2 separate regions of the Homo sapiens genome follow, and region 1 is linked to region 2. The links come from fine-mapping of genetic effects on gene expression. Tissue or cell type: blood mononuclear cells. Region 2 holds a variant in brackets; the other region holds the start of a gene. All regions are shown on one strand. Distances are between the middles of the regions.

Evidence for each region. PIP is the estimated chance that this variant, and not a neighbour inherited with it, causes the effect.
Region 1: ARHGAP6 starts here. The variant in region 2 is fine-mapped to the expression of ARHGAP6 in blood mononuclear cells (TOPMed, PIP above 0.99). The same link has a PIP of 0.9 or more in T cells, monocytes, pancreas and whole blood.

Annotation. Positions count from the first base shown.
Region 1 is chrX:11,662,885-11,668,265 of GRCh38, reverse strand. ARHGAP6 (Rho GTPase activating protein 6) reads left to right here and starts at 2,346. Exons shown (of 13, transcript NM_013427.3): 1 at 2,346-4,025. The coding sequence starts at 3,438.
Region 2 is chrX:11,387,693-11,393,073 of GRCh38, reverse strand. The region is part of intron 1 of ARHGAP6 (Rho GTPase activating protein 6); the gene reads left to right. Among named protein-coding and RNA genes, the nearest start is that of MIR548AX, 72 kb to the right of the region's middle. The variant C/A (reference allele first, on the strand shown) is at 2,420.

The DNA of each region.
Region 1 (5,381 bases), 280 kb before region 2:
AACTATTTATTTCTTGACTACCAATTATAATGCTTCTGAAGCTAGCTGATGAATTGTAAGAAGGATTCTGGGAAGCAATGTAACAAAACCAGCCATTTTTTGAAATTGGTAACCAAAACCCATAGATCTTCCTTAACTGAATTTGGCATAACCTGACAGTTGATCAGAAAGGCCAATGTGAGTTGAGTCTATATAAACAAAGAGAATATATAACAAACAAGAGTTAAATAGAATGCCTTAAATAGGAATGAATGAATCCACCATAAGCCACTATGACTGCAAGGTAAACCTAATAGCAGTCAGGTTGAAAATCAAAATAGTTTTAAAAAAATCCAAAAAAATTCTTACAAAGTCTTTCTAGAAGAACATCAACATCCCCTGCCCCAGGTATTAAAAGCACACATACTTACACTGAGTTTTTAAAAGGAGCCCCAGTCTAATTTGATTAATATTTAAAACAATTTATTCACTGTTCCCAACAATGACACAAGTTTCCAGTTTCCTGGAGGGTCAGGAACACTTGGAAACTAGATGATGAATTAACTGGCATGTGTGTGTTCCAAGCCCTAGGAGTGCTAATAGAAGAATCCCTCTGCTGGTTGGCTCTCCAACACCCATGAGCAAGAATGTATGCCCTTGTGCCTGGGGGCATTCATACTAGCCTATACAGTCATGGCAGGGGTTCATTTGCTACCCCATGGTTATCATATGGGGTTAGAGAAATATATAAATCATCAAATACAATCATCAAGTTGCTCACCCCCCTTGAGTTATAAGTGATTCTGTGAAGTGACTCTGTTAACCATCTACCCCGAATGCCAAACTCCACTGAGGCATAACCATGCAATGAGGCATAACCATGCATTCGTATCCCAGTGGTAGAGACATTAAGTGTTTCCATTACCAGTGATAAATTACAGTTTTGTTACTAAAGAAAGGGCAGACAAGACCCACACACTTTTACTTCTAATGTGACTTGTATGAGGAGGGAAGAAAGCCAATGCCAACAAGCCCCCAAATGTAACTTGGCCTGGGTGTAGTTAGGCAGGGGAGCAAGAGCTCTTTTTAAACACTGTGCCTGTCAGCAGCACACCTGATTGACAGCCGCTGAAAATACTTAAGAAGCTCAGGGTGAGAAGAGATGGACAGCGATGGGGGATGGGAAACTAGAATCGAACTCTGTCTTCAGACAGCAGATAGCTCATTAAAGCTACCGGAAAAAAAATCTCTAAGGGTGCAGTCTGTTCGGCTGCGTTTACAAAAAACGAGTACAGCCAAGACCTGGGAGCCCGACGCCCTTTGTGGAGACAACGAATTCTCCTAATTAGATTTCATGACGTACCTCCTCCAAAATAGCTGAACACCTAGGAACACCAAACACGCTTTTCAAAGAGTCTAAGTAAATTAACTTTTCCCCTGAATATGTCATAGGGAATAAAGGAAGTCTTCCAGAATCAAACTTGGACAATTCTGGTAGATATGCAAGAGGAATGTTCGTGTCCAACATCTGTATTTATAATTTCATTGTATTTTTTCTCCAAAATAAAAGAAATGGTAGAGTCACCTTTACATTTATATAAAATTATCTTCATCCCTAAGTGATAAAAGAGGACACAAACACAAAGTAGACATTTCCAACATTCTGTCTGCTCCCTGCTGAGATGGTTGTAAGTTGCATTGCAAAGCTTAACTGTTACATCAAAAAGCCCTCCAAGAGGGCGAGGCTTTGCGCTTTATAGATTCCAGGGGTCCGACAGCGGGAGAAGCTGCTTTCAGACTCATCTCCTTGCCGGGAAGATTGATTTCCCCAGCGTTCTCCAGCTTCCCAGGACTGTGGCCACCGCGCTGAGACCCGAGGCGTCCCAGAGCGGGACGCGGAGACAGATCGCTTTGTGAGCGCCAATCTCTGCAGCCTCTGGGCTGAAGCTGCGCCCGGCGCCTGCCCCCTACCCGGCCTCACTCACCCCTCCTCCTAGAGCACGTTTCCGCACGTGCTCAGGACCCCTTCCACGGCAAAGGCTCCTCCCCCTCCACTTTCTTAGTAGGTCTCCATCTCCAGCTCATTCATCGGCAGCCACTGCTTTTAGACAGTTTCCTATCTATCCTTCCTTTTTAAAAACAAAAACAGCCGGGACAGGGCGGGGTGGGGGGGCGCGGGGAGAAAAGGCAGGAGATTTAACTCCAACTTCAGAGCAATCGTCCCCGGCTGCCCATCTGACACCAGTGGGTGGGGTGCAATCTGACACTTCCCTTCCTTTCCAGAAACGTGAGTGGAGCTGGCGCGACCCTTGATCTGGGGGTGGGGAGACGGGGGAGAAGGTCCGCACTTCCGTCCTCACGACTTTCTCCCCAGGAGACCCGGTATCAGTGGCGAGCTGCCTTCTCTCCTCGCCGCTTGCAGGTTTGGCGCCTGGAAAACTCTTCACGTTCTGCTTTCTCCTGCTCCTGGCTCCGCCCCAGCTCCAGCCCCGGCATTCCTCCAGCTCTACACGTCCTGGCCGCCCCCTTCCCGCTGCCTCTAGAGCGAGCGTACGGGGTCATCTCCGCGTCTGCCCTGGGCCCAAGGCTGGGCTGCGAATAGCGTGTTCCTCTCCGGCGGAACACACACACCCGGCCTTGGGGCTGTCTCCTGAGCTCCCTCCTCCACGGAGAGCGCTGAGCGCCGCCGGGAATTCCATCCCACCGTGGGCACGCAGTCTTTGGAGGTCCCGGGCGCAGCACGCTCGGTGTCCCCACACTGCAGCAAGACAGAGACCCCGCGGGAACCTTGAGCTTGGAACAACCCTTGAGCCTCTGCAGTCGGAAGAGTGGGCGCAGCAGCCCAGCGGAGGCCAGGCGCGCAACCTCGGGCGCCGGGGCAAGGAGAGAGTGCAGGGAGGCGCAGCTCAGGCGCCCGGCTCAGGAGCGGGAGGAAGTTCTCGCGGCGCCGGGAGCGCGGTGGACGCGCCCTGGGCGCACGCCCAGGCAGCCTTCTCCCTGGCCCTCGGGACTGTCCTCGGGCCGCAAGGAGGAGCTTGCTGGAGTCTTAGAGGCCATCCAGAGCCAGCGAGCAGGAGCGCTGCGTCTCCCGCCTCAGCTAGGAAGGGGGAGTGGCGCTGGCAGGCTGGAGCTGGGAACCCAGCGAGCGCCTGACCTTCCTCCTCCTCTTCCTGACCCTCTTCGCGTCTTGGGCTCCGGAGGAAGGTTCTAGCGGCTGCAGGAGGTCCCCAGACCCATTTTCCTAGAAGGCTGGTGATGGATCTGCTGCTCCTGCCGCCGCCGGGGCACTTGGAGCGCACCGGCGGCGCGTGAGCTGGGCTTTGCTCTCCACTGCCCTGGGCAAACCCCGGGCCAGCCCCGCCTGGCACCTTTGCCTGAGTCCCTTTCGGTTCCCGACCCAAAGCCACCAGCGTCCAGGGAGGGAGGAGGAGGTGGTCCTCAGGTGCAGCCCCGCCGAGATGTCCGCGCAGAGCCTGCTCCACAGCGTCTTCTCCTGTTCCTCGCCCGCTTCAAGTAGCGCGGCCTCGGCCAAGGGCTTCTCCAAGAGGAAGCTGCGCCAGACCCGCAGCCTGGACCCGGCCCTGATCGGCGGCTGCGGGAGCGACGAGGCGGGCGCGGAGGGCAGTGCGCGGGGAGCCACGGCGGGCCGCCTCTACTCCCCATCACTCCCAGCCGAGAGTCTCGGCCCTCGCTTGGCGTCCTCTTCCCGGGGTCCGCCCCCCAGGGCCACCAGGCTACCGCCTCCTGGACCTCTTTGCTCGTCCTTCTCCACACCCAGCACCCCGCAGGAGAAGTCACCATCCGGCAGCTTTCACTTTGACTATGAGGTTCCCCTGGGTCGCGGCGGCCTCAAGAAGAGCATGGCCTGGGACCTGCCTTCTGTCCTGGCCGGGCCAGCCAGTAGCCGAAGCGCTTCCAGCATCCTCTGTTCATCCGGGGGAGGCCCCAATGGCATCTTCGCTTCTCCTAGGAGGTGGCTCCAGCAGAGGAAGTTCCAGTCCCCACCCGACAGTCGCGGGCACCCCTACGTCGTGTGGAAATCCGAGGTAGGGACCAGCGCTGCGCGTCCCACGGCCCAAGGAGGAGGCCCCCAGGCAGTTTCAGGAGACCGCCTTTAATTCCATTACATTTACAGAGCAAGGCACCCACTAAGGGGTTTCCGTGGTGTGGGTTTTCCTCTTCTACTTGCTAAATGGTGCCTGGAAATGGGATGTCCCTAGTGGCCACCCGCTTGTGCGTCTTGTAGGACTTGTTGGCTCTACTTTGGAGCAGTCGTGGGAGCTGGAGAAAGAGATGGTGTTCTGGTTTTCTGTTAGTGCTGCAGGCAATTTCAAAGGGTCACCTTATCCCTTCACCCAATGTTGATATTTTTTCCAACTCAAATATCTATTGCTAAGCTGTTTGTAACGATTGGATGAAATATATTTTGAAATATGTCTGCCATCTTGTTCTGTAGAGAATTCAGAAACATTATTTTGGAGGGTGTCATTGACTGTATGAGTGAGTGTGTGTGTGTGTTTGGGTGGCAGGGGGGACAAGAATTCTCTAGTTTTCACCTTTTCTTTCCCTGAAGGGGCAATTTCAGAAATCTATGGTACTGAGTATTAGTTTAACCTAGGAGAAGAAGAAAATCTCTGTGTAGGGGTGTGAAAGATCATGGAAATATGCTGATGCCTAAATTCCATTTAGAACAATTAGTAGTTTAGTGAAGAATCAACAATACATAGGGGACTCAGAGGGAGCTATCAGATACCCTTAAAATATTTGCTGTCCAGTTAAGAAAAATAGTGAATTGACCTATTGGGAAACTGTCACTGATGGGCGCTTTGAAAATAACACACTTTCAGAGAATAGTAATTGTTTTAAAAATGAACAGCCCCTATCCCCTTCGGTCCACAAACTCTATAGGTTTGCCTTGGATCTGTTTCCATAAGGGAAGGGAGATTCCATCAGTTGTAATTTAATATTTTAAAGTACAGTTAGCATTACAGAAATGAAATGAAATACCATGTAATTGCTGGAGATTTAGGCTAAATACACAACCAAGGAAAACCGTTTGAAAATAGCATCTGAGATCATACTCAGCTGTGTTAATGTGAGATAACTGTTAGACTTTGGCTTTAGTAAACCGCCTTAGAAAAATAAGCATCATTTATCAGAATTATTAGCATCACATATTATTAATGTTAGTTACTGTGTCAAAGTAACTGAGGCTGTTAGGTGTTGGGGGTGCAGATTACAAAAAACTAACAAATTTTGCTAGGTCTTTTGCCCATTTTCTTGAGAAAGATAGGCAGTAGAAAGGAAAGTCGAGGCAGAGGGCAAGATGTTACCTCCAAACCAGGGAACTCAAGATTAGAAAGAGCATCAAAAATTGAAATGTTGAATTTCTCTTGGTCTTT
Region 2 (5,381 bases):
TTTATAAATACTCAGTAATACAAACTAACTGACTATTTCCTGAATTTGATAGTGTCTTTTTCAGGATATCCTTCTTGTAATTCAGTAAATAGAAAGGGCCCCCATTAAAAATCACATGGAGAAAGTAGGGTGTAGGGTTGGGACAAACACACCAACGTGACTTGCCTTGTATCTCTTATTTCCCATTTTAGATACTGGTGGGTTAAATTTACTTAATATCAAGTTCAAATGTATGTACAGTCTTAGGACTTGGTTGTTGATTCTTAAGAGTGTGTTGAAAAAATAAAGAAGTCAGCTAGGAGAAGTTGAAAGAACTTAGACTTTGAATTCAGATGCCTGCCTTTGATTCTTCCTTCTGTGATTTTGTGCTCTTTGGCATCTCAAAAACTCAGTTTTCCTACCTTGAGAATGGGGAAAATCCCCACCCTATGAGTTTTTCATAGGCATCAAATGAGACAATCAATTTGAGATTAAGCTATAAATGTAAAGCCTCCTCCAAAATGCTAGCCAGTGTGATTTTTTAATAAGGTCATTATTTTTCTTCCTTTTAGGATTTCTCTCTCCCAAGACCAATAGTACTAACCAATATTCAGGCTTCATTCATGTTTCAGCAGGGCATGGGAATGGTTGTGGGTTTCTTTGAGCTCACTGGCCATTTATTGTTATTGATTAATTAACTCGTGATAAACAGCTGGTGAAAAACCCAGGATAAGGAAATGAGAGTGATGGGGTGGGGTTGGGAATGGTACATAGGAGGAGGCTGGAATGATGAACAGGAAACAGCCATGCAGAACTCTGCTGAAAGAGCCTTCCAGAAAAGGAAACGCAAAAGCTAAGGCTGGGGCAAGTTACCTGTATTAATATAAGATAACATCAAATGGGCTGTCCTTCCAGAGGAGTAACTGAGCTTCCTTTGGTCTACAATGGAATTTCTTCCCATTAGAAAATTTGACCCTTTTTTCTTGCAAAAGATAAGCCAAAGATATGTGAATTGCATGACAGTGATTTAGGATGGAACAATTCCTTATTTGAGGAATGCTTCTTTTTCTATTTTACTTCTGTGCCCACATAGCACCCAGCTTACAACTAGGAGCTTAGTCATAGACAGTTCTCAATGCTGGCTGCACATTAGAATCAAACAGGAAGCTTTTGACACCTCACTATTCCAAGTGTGTTCCTTAGAACACCACTGTTGACATTGCAAAATGCAGAATCTCAGGCACACCCCAGACCCACTCAATTAGAATCTGCATTTTACGAAGATCCCTAGGCAATCTACATGAAAGTTAAAGTTTGAGATGTGCTGTACAATACTGTGCCAAAGATCAAGCTTCACTCCTAGAGCTTCTGATTTATTTGGTCTGGGAAGAAGCCTGCCTTGGCATCATTTTAAAAAAGAAAAAGAAAGCTTGTAATCTCCAACTGATGAGAACGTACAGCAAAACTTGAAGACCACTGACTTGATTGTTCTCACTCACAGGCCCTCAATCACTGATGACTATCAAGCACGTGGAAATGGGATTCATCAATTATTTAAATTGCTTGTTTGAGAGTACCAGTTATGTTTTAAAGTTTTCTGGCTTTTTTTTTTCTTTTCTTTTCTTTTTTTAATCATACTTTAAGTTCTAGGGTACATGTGCACAACGTGCAGGTTTGTTACATATGTATACATGTGCCATGTTTCTGTGCTGACCCCATTAACTAGTTATTTACATTAGGTATATATCCTAATGCTATCCCTCCCTCCTCTGCCCACCCCACAACAGGCCCCGGTGTGTGATGTTCCCCTTCCTGTGTCCATGTGTTCTCATTGTTCAATTCCCACCTATGAGTGAGAACATGTGGTGTTTGGTTTTTTGTCCTTGCAATAGTTTGCTCACAATGATGGTTTCCGGCTTCATCCATGTCCCTACAAAGGACATGAACTCATCGTTTTTCATGGCTGCATAGTATTTCATGGTGTATATGTGCCACATTTTCTTAATCCAGTCTATCATTGTTGGACATTTGGGTTGGTTCCAAGTCTTTGCTATTGTGAATAGTGCCACAATAAACATACGTGTGCATGTGTCTTCATAGCAGCATGATTTAGAATCCTTTGGGTATATACCCAGTAATGCGATGTCTGGGTCAAATGGTATTTCTAGTTCTAGATCCCTGAGGAATCACCACACTGTCTTCCACAATGGTTGAACTAGTTTACAGTCCCACCAACAGTGTAAAAGTGTTCCTATTTCTCCACAGCCTCTCCAGCACCTGTTGTTTCCTGACATTTGAATGATCGCCATTGTAACTGGTGTGAGATGGTATCTCACTGTGGTTTTGATTTGCATTTCTCTGATGGCCAGTGATGATGAGCATTTTGTCATGTGTGTATTGGCTGCATAAATGTCTTCTTTTGAGAAGTGCCTGTTCATAT[C/A]CTTTGCCCACTTTTTGATGGGGTTGTTTGTTTTTTTCTTGTAAATTTGTTTGAGTTCATTGTAGATTCTGGATATTAGCCCTTTGTCAGATGAGTAGATTGCAAAAATTTTCTCCCATTTTGTAGGTTGCCTGTTCACTCTGATGGTAGTTTCTTTTGCTGTGCAGAAGCTCTTTAGTTTAATTAGATCCCATTTGTCAATTTTGGCTTTTGTTGCCATTGCTTTTGGTGTTTTAGACATGAAGTCCTTGCCCATGCCTATGTCCTGAATGGTATTGCCTACCTGGAGGCATCATGCTACCTGACTTCAAACTATACTACAAGGCTACAGTAACCAAAACAGCATGGTACTGGTACCAAAACAGAGATATAGACCAATGGAACAGAACAGAGCCCTCAGAAATAATACCACACATCTACAACCATCTGATCTTTGACAAACCTGACAAAAACAAGAAATGGGGAAAGTATTCCCTATTTAATAAATGGTGCTGGGAAAATTGGCTAGCCATATGTAGAAAGCTGAAACTGGTTTCCTTCCTTATACCTTATACAAAAATTAATTCAAGATGGATTAAAGACTTAAATGTTAGACCTAAAACCATAAAAACCCTAGAAGAAAAGCTAGGCAATACCATTCAGGACATAGGCATGTTTTGTGGCTTTTAATGAATACTCTTAATAATTTGTAAATCTTTCTCTAGAATAGACTTCTAGTTCCCATTAGAACTAGACTAGTGGTTAACATTACTGTTATCACAGATCAGAGACTGGGATGCATGATAAGTTTTCCTTGTCTTCCTTCAGCTCTAACCACACCGACTTTCTCATGTTTGGGGGTGATATTATTTCTCACTGTATTTGCATTGCAATTCTGAAAAATATCTTCCTATCCCACCTCTGTTTTGTTTTCCATGAAGTGAGCAAATTTACCAAGTGATTTGGAAGAAATTTATATAATTGTATAGCTTGAAAAGCCTTTTTTTCCCCTACAAATGTATTATTTAGGACATGTAAAATTTAGCAAACACAGATATTTTAAGCATAATTTACTAAATATTGATGATAACGCATGCTCAGAAGTCTTCATTTAGAGGACTCTCAATTTGTCTGAGTGTAAACTCAATTCCAACAATCAAAATAATTTGATATCTGGTTTTTGCTTTAGCAACTTCACTTGGTTGGCCAATGTTTTAATTCTCCAGTCCTTGATCTCTCATTGTGGTAAACCCACAGGATAATTTTATTAGTGCTTTGATTTTCTGTAAGAGGCTTTTTTGTTTTTCTTTAATTCAGCATATAATTGGTGCATGTTTAAACTTATTTGTGTTTCGGTTGAAAGGCAGTTATTAGTAGAGAGTATCAATAGAGAGTTATTATAGAGAGTATTAGTTATTATTTGCAGAAATGTTAACCTTACTATCTAGAGCAGGATCTTTCTGCCTCAGCACATTGATATTTTGGACTGGATAATTCTTTACTTTAAGGGATTTGTCATGCGTTGTAGAGTGTTTAGCAGTGTCCCTGGTCGATCCCCGGTAGATTCCAATAACAAGCTGCCAATCATGACAATAAAAAATGTCTGAAATATTGCCAAATGTCCCCTAAGGGTGCAAAACTGCCCCCAGTTGAGAATCACTGATCAGTAGAGATGAAAACAGAAAAAGAATCTGTAGGCATTTTGTGACCTAAATAAGACATTCTTATCTCCGTGTTGCTAGCTTTTATTTTGTGGCTGAGTGAATTGTTTTCAGTGTGAAGACCAATGGTACACTGGATTTCTATTTAAAGATGGTTTCAAATATGTAAAATAATTGATAGTTTACAAGCCACCCAAACATATTTCCCCACTTCCTTTTCTGAGTTTAGTTGAGAAAATTTTATATGTAGAAAGCTGAAACTGGATCCTTTCCTTACACCTTATACAAAAATCAATTCAAGATGGGTTAAAGACTTAAACGTTAGACCTAAAACCATAAAAACCCTAGAAGAAAACCTAGGCATTACCATTCAGGACATAGGCATGGGCAAGGACTTCATGTCTAAAACACCAAAAGCAATGGCAACAAAAGCCAAAATTGACAAATGGGATCTAATTAAACTAAAGAGCTTCTGCACAGCAAGAGAAAATACCATCAGAGTGAACAGGCAACCTACAAAACGGGAGAAAATTTTTGCAATCTACTCATCTGACAAAGGGCTAATATCCAGAATCTACAATGAACACAAACAAATTTACAAGAAAAAAACAAACAACCCCATCAACAAGTGGGTGAAGGATATGAACAGACACTTCTCAAAAGAAGACATTTATGCAGCCAAAAGACACATGAAAAAATGCTCATCATCACTGGCCATCAGAGAAATGCAAATCAAAACCACAATGAGATACCATCTCACACCAGTTAGAACGGTGATCATTAAAAAGTCAGGAAACAACAGGTGCTGGAGAGGCTGTGGAGAAATAGGAACACTTTTACACTGTTGGTGGGACTGTAAACTAGTTCAACCATTGTGGAAGTCAGTGTGTTGATTCCTCAGGGATCTAGAACTTGAAATACCATTTGACCCAGCCATTGCATTACTGGGTATATACCCAAAGGATTATAAATCATGCTGTTATAAAGACACATGCACACGTATGTTTATTGCAGCACTATTCACAATAGCAAAGACTTGGAACCAACCCAAATGTCCAACAATGATAGACTGGATTAAGAAAATGTGGCACATATACACCATGAAATACTATGCAGCCATAAAAAACAATGAGTTCATGTCCTTTGTAGGGACATGGATGAAGCTGGAAACCATCATTCTGAGCAAACTATCGCAAGGACAAAAAACCAAACACCGCATGTTCTCACTCATAGGTGGGAATTGAACAATAAGAACACATGGACACAGGAAGGGGAACATCACACACCGGGGCCTGTTGTGGGGTGGGGGAAGCGGGGAGGGA